Linked DNA regions of Homo sapiens: regions 1, 2 and 3 are each reported to be linked to region 4. The links are microRNA targets in miRTarBase. Many come from high-throughput screens and were not tested one by one. Region 4 holds a microRNA gene; each other region holds the end of a gene's coding sequence.
The links. The annotated mature microRNA hsa-miR-7856-5p reads UUUUAAGGACACUGAGGGAUC and lies in region 4 at 2,749-2,769, opposite strand. An mRNA with a match to its seed (bases 2 to 7 or 8) in the 3' UTR can be bound and repressed. Matches are read on the target gene's strand: a 7mer-m8 pairs with bases 2 to 8, a 7mer-A1 pairs with bases 2 to 7 and ends in A, and an 8mer does both.

Region 1 (4,100 bases), not on the chromosome of region 4:
AGAAGTGCCGGGAGAGTCCCTTGGAGATAAAAAAACCTCAACAATAAAAAAAAGCAATTTAAAAATCCAACTGCAGCCGGGGGCGGTGGTTCACGCCTATAATTCCAGCACTTTGGGAGGCTGAGGCTCAGGATCACCTGAGGTCAAGAGTTCAAGACCAGCCTGGCCAACATGGTGGAACTCCACCCCTCTAAAAATACAAAAATTAGGCTGGTGTGGTGGCGGGCACCTGTAATCCCAGCTACTGGGGAGAATGAGGCAGGAGAATCGCTTGAACCCAGATGGCGGAGCTTGCAGTGAGCAGAGATCACGCCACTGCACTCCAGCCTGGGCGACAGAGCGAGACTCTGTCTCAAAAAAAAAAAAAAAAAATTCCAACTTCCTCTTTTAGGCGTCTTCTTAAGGAAGGAAGTGTCCGCGTGAACACGAGAGGCCTCAGATCCAGAAGCACAAGCCGTGCATGAAAACACCAAAAGACTCACTGCAGGGAGCAAAGGCAGCCAGGCCCTGCCAAACCAGAGGGGGCCCTGGCACCGGCGACCACAGAGCGCTGGGGGAGGCATCGCACCCAAGGGCACACACGCAGGAAAACCGGGGTGAGAACATAGAGCTACTTTTCCTTCGGTATTTTCAGAATTAGTCTGTCCTAAGAGAAAAAAAAATACATGGTGAACATCACTCACTTGAGGACTTCCCATAAGCAAGGAGAAGTCGCTCCCCACTGAATGTGTGATTTCTCGATTTTAGATTTTTTAAAATCATTTATTTATTTTTGAGACGGAGTCTCGCTCTGTTGCCCAGGCTGGAGGGCAGTGGCGCGATCTCGGCTCACTGCAAGCTCCGCCTCCTGGGTTCAAGTGATTCTCCTGCCTCAGCCTCCCAAGTAGCTGGGATTATAGGTGCGCACTACGACACCCGGCTAATTTTTGTATGTTTAGTAAAGACGGGGTTTTGCCATGTTGGCCAGGATGGTCTGGACCTCTTGACCTCAGGTGATCCACCCGCCTCGGCCTCCCAAAGTGCTGGGATTACAGGCATGAGCCACCGCGCCCGGCCCGATTTCTTGATTTTAAAATTAAAACAAAGGGGTAGTACAGCCAAAATAAATAAGAACGTAAATTGCCGTATTTTTTTTTCTAATGGTACAAGAACAATTTAGTAAATAACATCTTCAACTTAAGATAAAAAGTAGGATATATTTATAATGAAATTTTCAAGTATTATTTCAAAATTAACCCTGTACAAATGATATATTTTGGAAATTCCAATATTTGCTAGAGAATATTTTTTAAATACCAAACATCTTTGTGGTTAATGCTACCTTAACCTTACCAATTAACCTTCTAAAAGTATATTACAACAGAACACAAATAGCTTAAAACACACCATACTGTTTTCTCCACAAAACAGACACCAGACACCGACATGAGCACATCTGGCCTGGCCAGTGACTCAGAACCTCATTTCAGACCAGTACATCTGCAGAGGAGGCCACGCGGACCCATTCTCTCTCTCCTAACTCATATAATAAATATTATTTTAGATTTTCTTAGCAAACTAGGGGACAACTTACAGACCCCACCTCTCCCAGTCAGCCAGTGTCTGCAGGGTTTCAGGATTTGGGGTAGGAAACAGAAGATCTCACACATGTCGTGCTGATTTTAAATAAGGCATCTGTCTCTGAGACACCTGGGAGAGCACAGCCACCTTCCTCACGGTGCCTGCCTGTCTCTTCCGGAAGTCGCCTCTGCTTGCCACATGATGCTGGTGTAACCACAAAAGATCCAGGACTTCTCGATGACTGCAGAAGTACAGGTGCTCCTACACACGAGTACAGGCGCTCCCACAGACAATGGTAAAGATTTTCACTTGGGGAACAGGAGTGTGAGGTTTGTTACCGCCTGCGACCTACACCTGGCTGACTCCAGGGGAAACCGCGGGAGTCGCTGCAGGGAGCCCCTGGTCTGCTCTCCTCCTCCTCCTCCACCGGCCTCTCCCTGTGCCCCCCCAAAGGTCAGATCAGATATGGGGCCTCAGTGTCCTTGTGCCTCCTGATGGCCGTCAGGCCTGACCAAGGGTCCAAGCTGCCCCTTCCCAGTGGCCAGCCACGGTGGAATCACACAGGGCCAGTGGCCTGAGAGGAAGAGACCAGCAGGAAGGAAAGATCCTCAGCAACAAAGTAAAACCAGAACAACAGAGGACCTTTCTGTGTAAGAATATTTGGCTTTAGAAGGTAAATAAAATAATTATATTTCTTAGAATTTTCTGACTATCCCTAAATCCTGCAGGTAAATTATTCCCAACAAATTTTCAAAAGGCAATCAATAATAAGTAGGTTCTTCTTCAATAACATGAGCATATGCTTCTTAAAGACTGGGTGACAGGCCGGGCGCAGGGGCTCACGCCTGTAATCCCAGCACTTTGGGAGGCTGAGATGGGCAGATCACTTGAGGTCAGGAGATCGAGACCATCCTGGCCAACATGGTGAAACCCCATTGCTACTAAAAATACAAACATTAGCCTGGCATAGTGGCGCACGCCTGTAATCCCAGCTACTCGAGAGGCTGAGGCAGGAGAATCGCATGAACCTGGGAGGCGGAGCTTGCAGTGAGCGGAGAGTGTGCCACTGCACTCCAGCCTGGGCAACAAAGCGAGACTCTGTCTCAAAAAAAAAAAAAAAAAAAAAACAAAGATTGGATTATGATATTCAGTATCTATGTACACATCCTATGGTGGGATGGCTATCCAAAAAAACAAGTAAAAAGCCAAAGGTACAGATAAAATTTCATTTCTGCGGAAAAGTAAAGCTCTTACTGAATGGAACAGGGAAGTGAGAAACTGCAGCCGGCCTGGCCAGGCGCGGTGCCGCAGACCCTGTCACACAGCTGCTCCCAGTTACGCAGCCTCTCCCTGTCACCCGCAGAGAGCAGCATCGGTGGCCGCTCAGAAGCCACGACCTACAAGTAACCCTTCAGACACGTTCAAAGCTCCTCGCCGAGAGCCTATCAGGCTTTTAAGAGTTGGTCATTCCATGTGAAAAGCTAATTGTGATCTTCGAATGTTTTTCTAGTCCTTGGCTCTCATTCTGCTATATATTTTACTTCTTGTTAAAGGCAAAACAAAACTTAAATTTCATGTCTTAGAAAAACATCGACCACACAATCAAATAAATAACATTGATAAGAGCCTTCTGGGGCAGCGGCGCACGGAGGCGAGTCCACAGCAGTCACTCTCCCGGCCCTTCTTTGGAAGCCCTGCTCTGACTGTGTCTCTGTGGGTCGCCGCGTGGGCCGGCGTGACCCCCCGGGGGCACAGGGCTGGCAGTGGCTGGCTCCAGCGGCGTCCACGAGGACAGAGACTCGTGCACCGTCAGGGCGTGCTCCTCCATCTGGCGCTGCAGGCTGTCCATCTCCTGCCTGGGACAGAAGAAGGAGGAAGAAGGCCCAGATCACACAAGTGCCAGGCAGAACGCGCCACCTGTGGACAGCGTCACTCGCTAGCACCTGAGTGGACCGGGGCGCCTTCGGGGATCCGCAAACCAACTGAGACCACAGAAGCTCAGCTGTTCTCAGCACCGTTCTCTACACTGTGCAGAGGACACAGGCTCAAGGACCAGTCCTGACCAGGCGGCAGGGTGGAAGCTGTCACTGAGGCCTGGCACACACGACTTCCACTCCGTTACCTGCCCTCGGGGCGCCGCCTGGCTCCGCCCTACACACTTCGCTCAGCCTCAGGCTGCCAGGTGCACCATGTGTGGCCTTCCAGCTTCTCAGGGCCTATCAGGGTAGTTTAACTCCAGGCAGTTTCCACCTATGAGTTCACAGGCTGTGTGTGCGAGTTCCCCCACCTTTATATAAACCTCAGAGGCTGTGCGAGTCCCCCTCCCACTTTATATAAACCGCAGAGGCTGTGTGAGTCCCCCTCCCCCTTTATATAAACCTCAGAGGCTGTGCGAGTCCCCCTCCCCCTTTATATAAACCGCAGAGGCTGTGAGTCCCTCCCCCTTTATATAAACCACAGAGGCTGTGCGAGTCCCCCTCCCCCTTTATATAAACCTCAGAGGCTGAGTCCTTCCCCCTTTATATAAACCTCAAAGGCTG
Region 2 (6,072 bases), not on the chromosome of region 4:
TACTCATGCCTTAGGAGCATGGATATTTGATGGTTGTATTTACAAGTTCATCTTAATCAAAATGAACACAAAAGCCTAAATTATGTGGCCAAAATATATCTTCAAATCCCCCATTGGAAATCTTGAAGAACTGGTTCATATATTCAGTGTAAAACTTGGAAGAAGTGTTCAACATTTGCTAGTTATACTTGGCTTCTCATGCAGAAATTTCTTCTACAAGCCCTCAACATAGTCTCTTGGTCTTTGCCTCAACACCTAGAAAACTCTTCTACACTGTCCGGTAACTTGAATTGCTCTAAAATTCTTTGGGTCCCAGCCATGTCCTCAGTCTGTGAATGTACTTGATTTTGAGATTGTCTGATGTTAATGTTAGCTAAATGCTTAGCCTTAAACAAAAACAAATATAGGAAAACTCATTATAATCATAATATAATAAGTACAATTGAGTATGTATCTTAACATTCAGGACACTTATATGCTAAATTTCTCTCATAGTGATACAGAAACCTATATAGTGAGTATGTTATGAGTTTTTTCTTTCATTTGTTTTACATAGTTTTAAGAGGAAATGAACATTTTTAGCATCAACTTAAGAAAAGTACATTGCCAGGAGAGATTTGAACTTCTCTGACATATGACGAGTTTTGTTCTCTGAAGAATATGAAATCACATATTATCTAAGGTTTCTGGGGTTATCTGAAGTTGGGGGGAACTTGGCTTTATTATTTCAAAGCCTACTTTTTGATGGGCTACCTGTCGTATTTAGTGACTTTTCTATCCCTGTTCCAAAAATATTAAGCTATTTGCTAGACTAGTAAACTTGAGATCAGCACAATGAGATGCTAGGTTTACAGATTTCCAGAGATACATGTGTTTGAAAACATTCCTAATAGTTACTTTATGTGTGGGTCGGTGTGTTGTGATTGGAATTTGTGGCTGTAGCTATTTCGGCATTCATCGTATAATCCCTTCTTCCTTTCTCAGAGGACCTACCGAGCCATGTACGATTACAGTGCCCAGGATGAAGACGAGGTCTCCTTTAGAGACGGCGACTACATCGTCAACGTGCAGCCTATTGACGATGGCTGGATGTACGGCACAGTGCAGAGAACAGGGAGAACAGGAATGCTCCCAGCGAATTACATTGAGTTTGTTAATTAATTATTTCTCCCTGCCCTTTGAGCTTTATTCTAATGTATCCCAAACCTAATCTTTTTAAAAGATAGAAGATACTTTTAAGACAACTTGGCCATTATTTTACAATGATGTATCCTTCCTTTGACAATTAGACACACAGGTACCAGGAAGAAGGAATGACCTCTGGGCTGAAAACAGCAGCATTTTCAGTAATTCCTACAAACAAAAATCTTTGTGTCTGGACACCTGGTGCTGCTAATTGTGTTCATGGTTTCCTTTGATTGGCTATTGAACCCTTCTGGGAAATGTATTTTTGTAGACTTTAATAGAGAAGTTGATTGTCCCTTAAATGTAGTGTGTGTTTGAAACTTCTTAGCTGTCACTTTGGAATCACCCCAAGCCAATTCTCTTAACTCTGTAATGCAGCCAATAATTTCAAACCCGTTTTGCTTTTGAGTCATGAGGCAATTTCCAATATTAGTGAAAATTGCCCAATATAATAAGTGTAAACAGTGGCAGAAGGACAGTCTGGTTAAAATTATATTGACTGGTGGCCTTAGGGATCTAGAAACTTCTACTAAACAGAGAAATTTCCTTGTTCCCTAGGCTGACTGGTATCTATTTATTTCTCATTTGTACCAAGGCATCTCCTACTCTCCATTTATATTCTATGGACCCAAGTCTATGCTCAGTTCCACAGAATGTCAGGACCAAATAACTTCACAGCTACTCTGCAAAGGGCAAATTATAATGTCATTGATATAATTTCCCTAGTAGCATTTACCCTGTTGCATGTCATGTAGATTCAAGCTTCTGTAACATAGGCAGCTGCACTGCGCGTTCCTATTATTGAAGCAAAAAGGGTGACTGATACCTAAAAGCCCTTTCTTCCTCTAGTCGCCAGCTCATCAGAAAAACATACTTTGAAAAGATGCTTGAGATTTTCCTGCTGCATCGCACTCTAGTTTTGAAGGATTTACATCTTAGGAAATAACATGTATACTCTAGTAAATAAGCGATTTAGGTGTTCCATTGAACAGCTTTGATTAACTTAATGCCACCATTGATTTCAAAGTGAAGAAAATGTAACAGAAGCCAGTGAAGCAATGGAAGCTGGAGTGTGACTGGAAAAATACTCAGCAAACAAAGTTACCAATTCCATACAGAGATGATCTGGTATCTTCTTTTGGAAAATGGTATTCAAATTCTGGAATGGAAATCTAGCCACCAAAACGGGTTAATCAAAAGACGTCCTTTTCCATTTTTTTTTGCTTTTATTTTCTAAATCATTTTTAAGGGAATGAAACAGGAATGTCATCAGAGATTTTTTAGTACAGGCCCAAGAGCCTGTTCTCTAAGAAAGAAATTGTTGCCATGTTTTGATTTTCGAATAAGTGACTTTGCAGGCTTTATGCTAGCCCTTGCTGGTGGGTCTTGAAATTTCATCCAGAGTCTGCAGTCCAGGTCACCAAGCCAGCGGCACCCGTCGGCAACCCTGTGTTTTTCTGATTGTGCCGTTTACTGTGACCTGCAACGGGGTGGCATTCACTTAGGGTCTGACTTCACAGCTATGACAAAACCGAAAAAGCAAAACTGCAAAAAAGTACTAAGATGTACGGGTCTTGGGGATATCTGCCTTATATGTTATATTCAAGGAAATTAACAAAACATCCTGTAAAACATCGTTTAAGGAAACGTTTACTAGTCCAAAGGCCAAAGCTAATTTATTTCCACTTTAGAAAAGTTAGCACATGCTTTTGAAAATCTGTGATTTCATTTTATTAGGCTAAAAGGGTAAATAGGCTTTATTACACTGAAGCTGCATCTATATGTCACTGACATAAAGTTGAAAAAATAAATGCAGGCAAATAACTAGAGACTTCTTTTAAGGGGGTTTGGCTGGTTTTCTCTCACTGAAATGGCCAGTCGTGATTAAAGTGATAAAACCCCATATCTGTTTTGGTATATTGTACACAAACCTACAAAAATAAACTGAACTTGCAATATTTTTGCAAAAAAATCTGTCGTTAAAACTGAGGATAAAATACCTGCTCAATTTTATTTTACTAAGTATATATTTACATTTCACCCAGGCAGGCCATTTTCTTTTGTGATTATAAGAAAGAGTAGTTGTTGATTAAATTTTCAGACTAAATATAGGACAGGTACAATTTTGGATAAATAGCACATTTATAAGAACCGCAATGAAAACTGACTTGAAATAATGCTTGTAATCAGGAAAGTAATTTCATCCACCGATTTCAAAACCAGATTCACTGAGCATAAAAGTCAATACATATTTGAGGAATAAGTCTCCTAAAATTTTAAGCTTCACGTAATAATGTTTGCATAGCAAAATATTTCTGCTTCAAGCCTTTAGGAATTAAGATCTGATCAGAATTTAACTAAAGGGTAGTTGTTTTACAATGAAGACTAAAACTGAACAAGATGTTGCATGCTCTTGAGGCCATAATTTGGTAGTGTTGGCAGTTGTTAATAAAGCTTGTCAGGATGTTAAGCATCTCAGGAGAAATATTGGAAAATTATATGTATAAAACCAAAGTGCTATTTTTAAAAGCATCATTTAAAAAAAAATGACATGCCTGAACAACTTTTCCACTTTCCACGTGCTTCCCTCCCACCTTTGGTTTGGCAACAGGTATCTCGTGCATGAAGCTGACAGCTAAAGAAGATTTTAAAAATTGAGTTAAAGATGACTGTGTAAATGTCCAAGCACAGAGAGCATGCACCTGACTTTCTAAAGTTTGATGTGTTCTCAAGCCTGACAGAAGCACAAGGAACAGTTTGATACACTTTTAAAAGGTTCTGAAAACAAAGCTGTATAGGGATCCTCTCTCTCTTGAGCAAAGTATAGCAACAGAATATATTGCTTTTGTTGTAAGCTTTTGTAGTACATGTTTTTACTAATAATTCTTGTTCTCTAGAAAGCTTTCTATTTCTAACCTATGGCAAAATGAATCCTTCATGTCTTCTTGTTATTGTTTACACACTTGCAGTGTAGCCCAGTTTGAAATATTTATTTGGTTATCAACTGCCCATGGAGGAGGCTCTTGATGATCCCAGGTCTCCTCGACCTCCATACACCACACAGGCATTTGTAAGCACAGTTTCCACAAGCACCTTGTAGGAATATGGATAAGATTAGACCAGCCCCTCTCTGTCCACTGGGTTTATTTCTTGAAGAAGATGCAGATCTGGTTTTTCCAATGTGCCACAGTCTTTCCTTATCCTCTCCATGCTGAGCTTGACAACACTCTGGGAATGAGGAACAAGACTTTTTCTAAAAAGATAGTGGAAGTTCAAGGGATGTACCTCGTTTTCAGGTTCATCCATCTCCAGTGGAATGTTTTCAATAAAAGATGAAGAAAATGTGTGTGATCTTTAATAACACATCCCTATAGAAAGTGGATAAAAGATATACCAAAACTGTAATACAGATATATACAAATATAGGTGCCTTTTTGATTACTCTTGTTTGTCTAGTATGCTCTTGGAAAGAAAACCAAGCAAGCAAGTTGCTGCCTATTCTATAGTAATATTTTATTACACATGATTGATATTTTTGTGGTAGGGAAGTGGGATGCTCCTCAGATATTAAAGGTGTTAGCTGATTGTATTTTATCTCTAAAGATTTAGAACTTTAGAAAATGCCGACTTCTTCCATCTATTTCTGAAAGGTTCTTTGTGGATTTATATAGAGTTGAGCTATATAAACATTAACTTTAGATTTGGGATTTAAAATGCCTATTGTAAGATAGAATAATTGTGAGGCTGGATTCACTACACAAGATGAACTTCACTTCATAAATTAATTATACCTTAGCGATTTGCTTCTGATAATCTAAAAGTGGCTAGATTGTGGTTGTTTTGGTTAAGGTGATATGGAGGTGGGAGAGCTTTTAGTTAAGTAAGAAGCTATGTAAACTGACAAGGATGCTAAAATAAAAGTCTCTGAAGTATTCCATGCCTTTTGGACCCTTTCCTCGCAACTAACTGTCAACTGTTGATCAAAAAAGTCAAGGCATTGTATGTTGCTTCTGTGGTTATTATTCTGTGATGCTTAGACTACTTGAACCCATAAACTTGGAAGAATCTTTGAGCAAATTTTCTCAGTTGTCTGTATGACTTCAGTATATTCCTGGGAATGCCATAGGATTTTTTGTGCTTGATACATGGTATCCAGTTTGCATAGTATCACTTCTTTGTAATCCAGTTGCTGTTAAGAATGATGTACTTTAAAGGAAAAGAGAAAACTGCATCACAGTCCCATTCTCCAGTGTCCATGCAATGAATTGCTGAGCATTTAGGAAGCAGCACCAAGTCTATTACAGGCATGGTGTGAAACTTGATGTTTGACCTGTGATCAAAATTGAACCATTGTACAGTTTGGCTTCTGTTTGCTTCAAAATATGTAGAATTGTGGTTGATGATTAATTTGCGAGACTAACTTTGAGAGTGTAACAGTTTTGAAGAAAACATTGAATGTTTTGCAAATGAAGGGGCTTCACGGAATGTTACAATGTTACTAATATAATTTGGCTTTTGTTATGCAAATTGTTAACACCAGCTATTAAAATATATTTTAGTAGAAATGCTTTAATTCATATTTTTTTCCTCTACACTGTGAATCTTTAAGCCTTGGTGGACTAGAGCAACATCGTGCTGCCCAAAGGACTAACCTATGCAAACTAGTTCACATTTTAGTGGATGTCGCAGTTAATGTGTAATAAGACATTATTTCCCCTGCATAATGTACAACAGCATTGAAATGACACATTAAGCCTAGCATCACATTGTATAGTACAGTCACTCACAAACCCTTCAAGGCTACCCTAATCATTAACATTAATATTTGTTTAAAAGCAAATCACCGATTTATCTATTGAAACTACTTAAATGACGGCAAACCAGGAA
Region 3 (6,072 bases), not on the chromosome of region 4:
TCACACTGAAGTCCATTGCTGCTATTATCCAGATGTTAAAGTGTAAACCTCAGGTGTTTCGGGTAAGGTATGAGGGCTACAGCTCCCTTTGTGTACCCAGGCTGATAGGTTAACGCTAAACAACCTCGTGCTGAACAGAGTGGCCAGTCCTTCCCACACTCACCTTCCATTTGCAGCAGTCACTGATTGCCAGGACCAGCAACAGGCTGTGATTTGCTCAAAGTCCCAGCAAGTCGTCCCCAGCACTGCTGCTCCATACCTGCACCACCTGCACTCCACAGACAACCGTTGTGCAGAACCCTCCCCTTGCCTATCAATCCCACCTCCAGACCTACTCAGCTCTATCTCATAAAAGTCTCACTTTGCTCTTGGCAGCTACAGTAGGGCTGCACACAGTGAATGCCAACCCACCAACTCCAGAGTATATCACTCTGTGATCTCAGGTGGTGAGTGTCAAATGTCACCCTATCAATACCACAAAGCAGTGGTGCCCAAATGTTTTGATCATGGACCCAAATCAGAAAAAAAAAAATTAATGCACCAATAAATGTTTATTTATAAATAATAGAAGTGTACAATTGTACAATATATTATGTACATTATAAAACACACAAAAATAGAAATTTAAAAGGATGAGATTAAATACAAATAATCATCTTAATACTTCCTCAATGGATTGATCATCTCCACGCCCCTGGGATGTATACACCCCCACCTGAAACAATAGCCCTAAAGTATGTCAATGATTGTTATTTGGGTTTTCAGCTCAGGTTACAGAAATATGTACAAGATCGCATCTTTTTAAGTTTTGCAAAATAGCCCTAGCATCAAGTTTAAATGGATGAGAATGCTTGGTGCTAACTTCTTGAGACATATTTGGACTAATCACTACACAGCTGGCAAAATGTTATGGTTCACCAACAGTTATTTCACTTTAAGGCAGTCTAAATAGAGGATTTCATGGAGTTAAATCAGACCGTTTGTGGGAAAATTGTTTCTTAAAAAAAAAAAAACATTTTAAAGGAAAGGATGATGATTTGTTGTTTTTGTTTTTTTTCCAAAAAAACCCAACAGGCTGGGCGCAGTGGCTCATGCCTGTAATGCCAGCACTTTGGGAGGCTGAGGAGGGCTGATCACTTGAGGCCAGGAGTTCGAGACCAGGCTGGACAACGTGGCAAAATCCCATCTCTACTAAAAATTAAAAAATTAGCTGGGTGTGGTGGCATGCACCTGCAGTCCCAGCTACTCAGGAGGCTGAGGCAGAAGAATCGCTTGAAGCTGGGAGGCGGAGGTTGCAGTGAGCTGAGATCGTGCCACTGCACTCCTCCAGCCTGGAGGACAGAGCGAGACTCCGTCTTAAGAAGAAAAAGAGAAAGAGAGAAAAAAAGGCCAGCAAAATAAACAGCTAGCCCCTAAAGAAATAATTCTTCTGCCTACAGTAGATAGACTAAAAAAAAAAAAAGGCATTCCAAATAATAGCCAAGGCAAATGGATTTAAATGGATTGCCACTCATCTACCTGCTCTAACACCAGCGAGTGAGTTCTTAACACTATTTTTTTCATTTTGATAGCTCCAGTATCCAGTCACAGAGCCTGGCACATAGAAACTCAGTAAATATGTGATGAATGACAACCTCTCAAAAATTATGTAAGGTGCTGAATTACATTTGAAATAAGAATTGTGACTACAGAACACTCTAGTATATGGTTTGGATTGGCTGAAGCAAACTGAACAAAACTTGTGGTCAAAAATAACATGCCTAGAGAGCCTCATTATATCTCTCCCTCCCTGTTTCCACATCAGTTGTTTGACATCCACGCCCCCTGCTTCCACCAGAGCCTGAGCTTCCCCATACACAGTGGGACAGTACAGCTGGACAGGCCTGTCCTTTTCCAGCCCTCAGTGAAAGCTGGGAGAAGCAGAGCAGAAGGTATTGTTCTACACAGAGAACTTCACTCAATGTGCTCCCTAACTTAAAAAAAAAATTATGAAAAATGTTTAAAAAATTCAAAAAGGACATGAACATCTAACTCTGAGATTGAGATATTAACACCTCAGGGCCTCAATCAAATATTATAATGCTAAAATACACAACTGCTACACTTTGAATTGTGGTAAGTCTCCTCATGAACAGCTGTATTTTAATAGGTACTTTACCAATTAGAGAAAAATATCACATAATTTAACTGTTTCAATTTCACTTCCTATACACTGTATGATCTATAGGCTCATCAATTGTTGACAAAATGTCAGTTTCTTTATAGGAAGAAAATTGAAACTTTGCTCAAGTTTCCATTAGATTAAATGCAAACTAGGATAGTTTGTTATTCTCATTCCAGAGGAAAAACGAAGGGATGTGGAGTTTAGCGACTTGCTGGAGAGAGAAGAACTATCAACTGAAGGCTCAGTTCTTTCACTACTGCCATATGGAAAGAGGTTACCTAAAGCACTCACTAGAGGAAATTTTATTTTACTTAGTTGGGAAGTACATACACATCACACAAAGAGAAAAGGAAAACAAACTGGTGGAATTTTCTGGTGATGGTAGTTTTTTTTTTTTTTTTTTTTTTAAGCACTGTGGTGTTACTAGGTTATCATCCTCTCCAGAATCTTAAAACCAGAGAAGCCAGCTGTGTGAATGAACTTATAAAGCCTCTTTAAGGCAAAGTAGCCACTAGAAAAAAAAAAACAACTTTTCTTGAAATCTTTCAAGAAAACTAGGAAATATGCATTCTACACATTGTTCTGTCTTGTCTGCTCAGTTTCCTTGCCTTCGTGCCACACCTGTTTTCTCTAATCCCTCCTTTCACTTGACACCAGCTGGCTTACCCCCTGCCACCACACTTAGGTAATCAGTAGCTGCCTCAAGACACTGGTGCTTCACAGCAGAACCTGATTTGAAAATTAAACCCACCCTCCTACTTGTACAATGAAGTAAATGAAAAAAATCCTCAGTGACACTGCCTCCTGCCTGCCAAGAAAGGCTCTCACTAAACTGGTGATTGAGGTTATAGAGAAAGAAACTGCTTTCACCCTTTTATAGGAAATATTACATCTTAAATTTAGAACCAAAAAAACCATTCATGGTTTTGCTAATTTTCACATTTTATTTCCAACTATTGCAGTAACAAGATGCCGGTAGTATTCTGCACTGAAAGTGGCAACCTTTTAAAGTAAACAAGGTTGCAAATTTTAGTATTCCAACAATATTTTGACCTATGGAGATTTTGATAGGAAAGAATTATTACAATCAGTTTTATAATACTACAGACTTATGTTTCCTCCATATCTAGGAATAAAAATATCCACCCTCCCTCAATGATTCATCATGTACACATCTCTACTCTTTACAAGCACTATCCTTCCAGTTGTACTATGAGGGGAAATCCCTCTCACTCCTGGGTTTTTCTACAGTATACAGAAATAGCAGTCACTTTAGCAGTAATGTACAATACTATTCAATCTTTAGTTGAAAAATAAAGAAGTGGATTGCCCTATTTATGTCCTGATAGTAAAAAGACACACACCATTGAAACATAAAACGAGTCAACAAACTTCTATTTTTATTGACAGGAGTCCAAAATGAATACAAAAAAAGCTTCCTTTGCATGTTATACTTACTTTCCTTAAAAAGCTCCTGATAGAGTCAAGTAGACTGAAAACTAAGGATGTAGTTCAGCTTTTAGAGTGAACCTTTTTTAAAAAAGGTTTAATAACATAAGCCACCAGTATCAGAAAACATACAGTCCCACTATCACTTTTAGAGCTAGAACTTATCAAAAGAATTAGATCCTGCATTGATCTGCTAAGATAGAGGTTTAGAAATGGTTTAAGCCATTAAAAGCCATTTTTATAATCTGTCTGATAACTCTGGGCAATTAAGAAAAGGAAAATTCCAAAACGTAGCCCTCTATATCATGTGGAATGTGAGAGAATGCCAACTTATGACCAAGATAAGTAAAAATAAAAGTTTAAATCTATGAGTGGAGCTGTTGTATCACTGCAAAATGTCAACAACAGAGCTTATCAAGAGATTATCAACTTGAGCGATGTTACTTAAACTTGAGCGATGTTACTTAAAACATATTTGTGGTGTTTGCTAAAACTAAAGCTGAACAAAGAAAAGTCGCTCATTTACAGACTGTGTTTCCTGCATCTTTACTTTTACTGGGACCATAGACTGATCAGATAATACATAGCCCACACTTCTGGACAGTTATAATAACAAAGGATTTATTATCATTTGCAGATGAAATAAATGTACCATCCCCTACTTGAAAGGTTTCAATAAGCCTTAACATTTTTCAGGTTGTACCAAGGCACCGCCACTGCCTAGTTATATTATGCACCCATTTCAAGAGTAAAAAAACTACACCTCCCTCAACATCAGTTCTGTACTGTTTCTGGTTTATGATACACTTCCAAAACAGCAAAAAATTGCAAATATGTGCAAACACTGTGGTCCATTCAGAGTACTGCTTAGTCATCATCTTCTTCTTCCTCCTCTTCTTCCTCAAAGCTATCTTCAAAGCCCTCACTGTCCTCCTGGTCTTCATCCCCCTCTATTGCTGTATCCCACTGTGGGTGATTTTCTGGCACAGGCTTAGCCTCATGAACTTCCAACTAGAAAGAAGAATTAAATGTAGACATCAGAAATTTGGGGAGAAATAATGGAAGAAATCTTGGTAAACAAAAGGTTTTCTTTGACCACAGCAATTACAAAGAAATAGTTTTTTATGGACACAATTCTAAATTCAACTCATTCATTTAGAACAGACACTTCATCCCAGAAATAAAACAAGTAAATTTAACAATATGTAAATGTAGTTAAATTTCTAATACAGTTTGATATTTTGATTCTGTATGTTATACTATTTATGAATGTATTTCTATGGCATAAAATAATTGTGATTCTTGAGCAAGAACACTGAGTCATATCTTAACAGAAGCCTTCTGCTTTAAGGAAGAAAAACCCGAGACATTTTGCAGTCTCTAGACTTGTGATGTAAAATTCTACAGTTAATAAAAGAAATATGGAACCCTCATGGAACAAAAAAGAGGTTCGCATTTACTGGCTACTTTTACCCTTTATAATGCAATAATACTTTTAGCACCATCTCTCTAATACAATAGGACACCTTTTATAAAAAGCTCAAGTGAATTGGTAAACAAAGATCAGAGTGTGCTGCAAATGATACTTACAGAAGTGTATGCTCTAAGATGACAAAAATAAATTAGTTTCAGAAATTAATATACACTCCAAATAGAATCTGTGGTTTAAAAAAAAAAAGTGCCTTTCTAAAGAAAAAAGAACCCATTTGCTGAGGCCTTATAAAGTTACAGCACATTAAAATGCATCCCTAAAGTAATTTATATTCAATGTTCTAAACTGTTACACTCCTTAAAAACCTAAAACCTTAAGTTTATTATTGAAAGAGTAGTCCATCAAGTATATCATATATAAAGCATGAGATGACTTCTTTTTCCTTCCATAACTCTACATTTCAAAACTAGAAATGTTTTCCTAGTATATTAAACATTTATACAGAAAACTCTTATTTATTGAAGAGTCACTATTCTTACCTTCAATGGTTTAATCTGATCCAAACCCATATAGGAGTCTGATCTCAGAAACACAGTATACTGATAATTTCCAGGCTTGCCTGGTGCAGGAAACTTCAGCTCTACCTAGAAGATAAAATCAGCACTTAAAAATCTGTATTATGGGGAGGAAACAGCTCACTCCCTAAAATTCCTAGACCACAGTATTTAACAGCCAGGTTTTTTCTGCAGATGATACAGAAAGTCCTAATAAATGTTACTAAAGTCCTTATAAACAATAATAAAAAAAAGCGAAATGTATGTTACATATTATAAATACCTCCCAAAGAGGAAATCAAATTATGCAGAACTGATGAGGTTAATTTGTCTCTCCACAATTCAAGAAAGCAGTACTTAAAGCAACCAAATTCTATGCTATCATCTTGAAGAAATTAAGCAGGTATAAAAGCATAAGTAAATGAAATGTTGGAATAAAACAACAGACTTCACTAGATAGGAGATACTTCCTG
Region 4 (6,072 bases):
ATCCATATAATTTATTGTTAGAACAACCACAAGCAACGAGAAGGTATAAATGTTACTACTCTTACACAGAAAGACACCAAGAAAATGTTATATTGTTAAAATGGAAGTTTTAAATTCCTGGTTAAATTTAAAGAAGTTATGTTGCCTGTATTGGAAAATAACCAACTAAAAAAAATTCAGGATGATGGCTATTAAAACACTTTGAACAACACCTTATTGAAGAAAGATATTTATTTTGTTAAGTTGAAATAGGAAAATTTTAAGCAGTATTAATCTCCTATTTTTGGATACCTAGGGTTTCTCTTATGGTTTTCTGTTTCACCTAAAAATACTGATTAATAATTGAGTATCTGTGAAGTCGAAACTGTAAATAAAATACATATTTTTTTGAGAAGCAAAGTGAACAAATCAACCAAAGACACACTCACCCATGCCAAGACAGAATATTCTTCCCACTGCTTCAAAATCTGCTCTAAATAATGTAAGAAGCTTTGATTCAAGGAAAAAATTTTTTTCTCATAATTTCAATTAGTAATTTAGGCTAATCTATGTCGTTTGACATTTTACTAGAAAAATCTCTTCTCAGGAATTTAAACTAAAATTTTGTCTGCATATTTTTATCTAACTTTTAAGTTCAGGGGTACAAATGCAGGTTTGTTACACAGGTCAGCTTGTGTCATGGGGGTTTGTTGTACAGATTATTTCATCAATCAAGTATTAAGCCTAGTACCTGTTAGTTATTTTTTCTGATCCTCTCCCTCTTCCCACTCTCCACCCTCTGAAAGGCCCCACTGTGTGTTGTTCTTCTCCATGTGTCCACGTGTTCTCATCATTTAGCTCCTACTTTTTAAGTGAGAAAATGCAGTATTTTTTTTTGCAAAATTAAAATCCAGATCATATTTGGAAGATAGACAGGGAATGCTTCCTAAAACTGCCTTGAAAGTAAAAGAAAAAAGACTTGTCACCATCTTTGGACTGCTCCTTTAAAAAAAATTTCATTAATTAAAAAAATATTGAGTGCTTACTATGTGCTAGGCATTGAGCTAGGAGAAGGCTATGTGGCTACTAACAGGATACACATGATCCATATTCTGATGGTATAAAAAGTAAAACAGGAAAAAGAAACAGACTGAAAAATATCCCAAAAAACTTGACGTACAATTCTAATTAAAATAAATTCAATTTTTGTAATGTAAGTTTCAATAATTTACCTTATCCTTACATCAAGGAACATATATGTAAGTATAACTTTGCTCCTTCTCTCATTCTATTACCATGTCTTCAAATGTCTATAGATTTGCATGAATAAACTAAAATAAGAATTTTAATTACCAATTTTTCACCATAAAATACTAAAAGAATAGCTTGCAAAACTGTATTATAGTATCTGCATGAAAATGATGTTTTACGAACTAAGTAGATGGGAATTTAAAAATCAAGCCCTGACATGAGTGCCCTCAACTGGTGAAATCATTCCAAAGCATTCTTTTAACGCATCTAGCAAAACTCAGAAGGACGGCTGGACACCTGGCCCTGAAGCTCCCTAATGGTGTGTTCCTGGTCTGCACACTTCCCCTTGCAGCACTGCAGACTCTCCTGACACTCGTGAAGCCTCCGTTCCGCCGCCGTCAAGGAATCGCAGACACGCTCTAACTCCTTCAGATGAGACTCCATCTGGCCTCTCATCTGAGTTGTGGCAGTAGGGAAATAAGTGCAAGATCACACATTCAGCATTAATATTTTTATTATCTTAAATACTAGATATGCTTATAACGTAAGTATTTTAGGTATAATGGCTTTAAATAAGAACACAACTGAATAAATATTAAACTCTGTTAAATAAGAATGTATAACTAAAAAGTGGGGTAGACTTTAGTTTTCAAAAAGTTTGTTGAGCACATAAATAGGGTAAATTAGCTGACAGGGTGGATGTTTAACTAATTTTTAAGAGCAAATTTTTAAAATCCTGACATTATATTCAAGCATAGATTATCACTAATAACCATTACTAATAAAGCCGTAATTGTCTACTGCCCAGCTATAGGTTCTAAAGGAATTGTCACTTTTAGTCATTCAATCTTATAACTCAGATACTTACTTAAATTAGAGCAGCTTGCTTCACTCATCTTAGCCAAAACTGATAGGGTTTACTGTATATTATTTAAAAATTGCTAGTATCATCAGTTCTCACTTGCCTTTAATTTGGCCATTAATGTTACTATCAACAAATCTCTCTAATTTCATCTACATTAATCTGTTTTGGCTACTGCAGTTCCTCGCTGCAGCACTTTCGTGGAGATGTGAAAAGCAGCAACCTTAAGAAATGTTTGCACTGCTAATTACAAAAAATAGCCAGACTCTTTCCCTGAGACAGGAACACCTAATAGTTTCTGTGTAGTATCTGGCATTCTTGATCAGGAAAGATAATGCAGTATTTTTTTTTTTTTGCAAAATTAAAATCCAGATTATATTTGGAAGACAGACAGGGAATGCTTCCTAAAACTGTCTTGAAAGTAAAAGAAAAAAGACTTGTCGCCATCCTTGGACTGCTCCTTTAAAAAAAATTTCATTAATTAAAAAAATATTGAGTGCTTACTACGTGCTAGGCATTGAGCTAGGAGAAGGCTATGTGGCTACTAACAGGATACACATGATCCATATTCTGATGGTATATAAAGTAAAACAGGAAAAAAAAAAAACAGACTGAAAAATGTCTGTTTTAAGGACACTGAGGGATCCAGAACAAAGGATCCCTCAGTGTCCTTAAAACATCTTAGAGGCCATGAGAAAACCAGGAGACTTAAAACAGTGAAGTAAGAAAAAGAAAAATTTCATTAAAAAAATAGTTGTCTTGTTAAATACTAGTTAGAAAACATTGTGACCTCACAGTATCTGAAAAAGACAGGCTCCAACCCTTTCCGTCATTTGAACAGGATTGTAAAATATGCTTTTATTTACAGTGCTGCCTAGCAGAAAAGGAGACATTTGCACTGGTATGTTTCATGAGAAAATGAGACCAAAAGACATGAAATGGTTTATTCGCTGGCCTGCTAAAAATAGGTGAAAAGTAATTCCATGAAAGCAGTAAGTTGTGCATTCAGTGAGCTATCTTTATGTCTGTATAACTGGAGGACGCTTGCTCTGGCTGACCTCTTCTTCACATTATTGCCTTGCTCTGACTTCTCAATCCTAAGATAGGGAGCAACCCAGAGAGAGTAACCTTATTAGATTCAGATGGAAGCGACCACTAACATCGCATGACCTCTGCTGCCAGGAGTCAGCATCCTACAACTTTCACTGCTTCTTTACCAAAACAACACAAAAAACCAAACAGAGATGCGGTTTCATTTAAAAATTTTAAAATATTCACAAAAACATCATAACTCGCCAACACTGGCCTTCCCTTCATTCTGTTGCAATAGAACAAATAAAAGGAAATGATCGTTTTTTAAAAGATATTATTTTTCTTCAAAAATGCATTTAGCAGATATTGGCTTTGCTTTTGTAGACGTAAAACATTTATAACCAGAAAAAAAGGGTGAGATTAAAAATGAGAGATACTTAGGTTTGTATACTTATGATTGATAACCATTTTTTGAGCTATTTAAAGTCTGCTCTTGCATCAGAAAAATTAAACATTTATGCTATTTTCCAAATATTAACAAAAAAGTGAAAAAACATTCACATAAACAAACAACATTTCCAGCCTGGAAGAAACATTATTTCCTTGGAAAACAAACTCTTACAGAGGCTAAGACTAGCCCTTTCCTAAGTATGAACTAGAGAAAATGACCAAAATGAATGAATTTGTGTACTATTCATAAAGTAAAAAATATATAAAATATTATTTATTTGAAATTCCAAACGTACCTTCTCTACATTTTTATTTTTGGTTTTTGTTATTTGGTTATTTTTATGTAGCAAATTTTCACATCTGCTTTTTACTATTTCAGCTGCTTCTTGCAACTTTTGTACCTGAAAATAAAGTATTAGAGAAACATATTATTTTTAGAATCATAACATGAGATAAAAATCTAAAATTTAAAATTTCATTTTAAACAAGTCATTATTTTCCTATCAATATCCTTGACTGGTTCATCTAATGTTATTACTTCTTTAAATATGGAATCACTCAGTGCTCTACTCTAACCCACAATCTTTGTCTGATTTACCTGTCTTCTCTCATCAATACTTCTAAACTCTCCACTTGAGCTTTGAAGACTACAAAGATTTTCATTTGCAGATCAATGTCACTTCAAAGAATCAGTCTCTGGTCCAAACTAGCTTCCATTTAAATTATTTTTCCCACCAAATCAAAATCTGCTAAAAAAAAAAAAAAAAATTCTAGGCCCTGCACCCAGAATATGGTCACTCAACCACAGTATTCCTGCTGAGGGATTAAACCCAAATAACCAGCTGGAAGACCCTGATGAATAACAAGTCCCACAGTCCACCACAACCTCCATTCCTACCTCAGACCTGGATGACTGAAATATTCTAACTGGATGTCTCAACTTAATTTTCCCATCTAATCCATCGAGATGCAGCCCCTTCCTACTTGCCCACACTTTGGCCCCCTTAAGCTTTCATCCTTAGTTCATTCTTTTTTTTTTTTTTTTTTTTTGAGATGGAGTCTTGCTCTGTTGCCCAGGCTGGGAGCACATTGGTGCAGTCTCGGCTCACTGCAACCTCCACCTCCTGGATTCAAGCAATTCTCCTGCCTCAGCCTCCTGAATAGCTGAGACTACAGGTGCATGTCACCACACCTGGCTAATTTTTGTATTTTTAGTAGAGACAGGGTTTCACCATGGTGGCCAGGCTAGTCTCGAACTCCTGACTTCAAATGATCCGCCCACCTCAGCCTCCCAGTGGATTACAGGTGTACGCCACTACACCCAGCCAGTTCATTATTCTTTAATTCAAACTCTCTCTGACCAGTGTGTTAACCATCATGCAAGGACCTGCATAAGTCCCATCTTATGAAGTTTTTTCTTGAATACTACATTTCCAAAAAAATAAAGGTTTTCTATAAATTACCATTGAACACATGGTCTATTTCATATATATTGTCATATGTTCTTTTCTTGGTCTTTCATGTGAATAATCTGAATTATACTTTATTTCTTGAGAAAGGAGGCATAATGAACTTTAATGACCCTAGAAGGGAGTCATTAATCTAAATCAATACCATTAAATACACATGATGACAAACAAATATAACCAAGATTAACAAGAATACATTAAGGGTCACATTATACCGATGTAATTCATTTTAAATCTACTTTTAGGAATATCCAGTATATCCATATGCAGTGTTTGAATCAGGAATCAGCAGAATCATCTATTTATAAAGATGTGTGGGACCTTAAGAAATATTTGAGACACACCATATTATAACCCACAATGATAGCCCCACCTCTCTTCAGTTCTATTTATTTAGATTACAAAGAAATAGTGTTTTAAATTGTCTACCAATTTTAGTAAACACTAAAATAAATGCAGTAGTCACCTGAGTTTTATACATTTCAATAAGGGTTTTCTGTTTTTTTTCTACTTCTTGCAATTCTGAGAGTTCATTTTCAACAGATACAACTTCATCCTTCAAAGCAGCAAGTGTAGTCTAGCAAAAAAGATATAGATTTTATAAGTCATTAGAATACATTTATACTCCAGTGCTACAGAATTATTATAAAAACATAACTCATGTATTAACAAAGTTGATAAAATAATTATTTTTTATTTCATGCAATACCATCTAAAATTTAGGAATTTCACAAAGCTAGTGACTAATAATTATGAACATCCTTATTAAGATTTACACAGGACATATTATTTTTAAAACTTTCTAAATTTACTGACAAAAAAACTTGGAAATGTGCCTAGATATGAAAAATCAATAGAATACAGAGGTTACTGGAAAAGAAAAATACACAAAAATTATACTTAATACATGATAAAGGTTAGATTTTTAAATCAATGGAGGAAACATGGACAACTAAATAAATGACAATAAGACAACTGTTTAACTATTAGGAAAAAAACAGGTTAACTACCTGCCTCAGCCCAACACTA

Region 1: the mRNA of GOLGA3 is a reported target of hsa-miR-7856-5p. Seed matches in the 3' UTR shown: 7mer-A1 at 3,012-3,018.
Region 2: the mRNA of NEBL is a reported target of hsa-miR-7856-5p. Seed matches in the 3' UTR shown: 7mer-m8 at 1,481-1,487.
Region 3: miRTarBase lists SEC63 as a target of hsa-miR-7856-5p. Seed matches in the 3' UTR shown: 7mer-m8 at 2,658-2,664, 7mer-A1 at 2,568-2,574, 7mer-m8 at 934-940 and 7mer-A1 at 800-806.

Annotation. Positions count from the first base shown.
Region 1 is chr12:132,769,879-132,773,978 of GRCh38, forward strand. GOLGA3 (golgin A3) reads right to left here. Exons shown (of 24, transcript NM_001389683.1): 24 at 1-3,416. The coding sequence ends at 3,227. Among named protein-coding and RNA genes, the nearest start is that of ANKLE2, 10 kb to the left of the region's middle. RefSeq lists an enhancer at 1,924-2,123.
Region 2 is chr10:20,780,836-20,786,907 of GRCh38, reverse strand. It overlaps NEBL (nebulette), which reads left to right. Exons shown (of 28, transcript NM_006393.3): 28 at 985-6,072. The coding sequence ends at 1,161. Among named protein-coding and RNA genes, the nearest start is that of NEBL, 110 kb to the left of the region's middle.
Region 3 is chr6:107,867,224-107,873,295 of GRCh38, forward strand. SEC63 (SEC63 protein translocation regulator) reads right to left here. Exons shown (of 21, transcript NM_007214.5): 20 at 5,585-5,689; 21 at 533-4,624. The coding sequence ends at 4,481. Among named protein-coding and RNA genes, the nearest start is that of SCML4, 46 kb to the left of the region's middle.
Region 4 is chr1:86,354,917-86,360,988 of GRCh38, forward strand. It overlaps MIR7856 (microRNA 7856), which reads right to left and starts at 2,771; the gene lies at 2,716-2,771. ODF2L (outer dense fiber of sperm tails 2 like) reads right to left here. Exons shown (of 17, transcript NM_001366781.1): 11 at 5,510-5,620; 12 at 3,871-3,975; 13 at 1,528-1,686.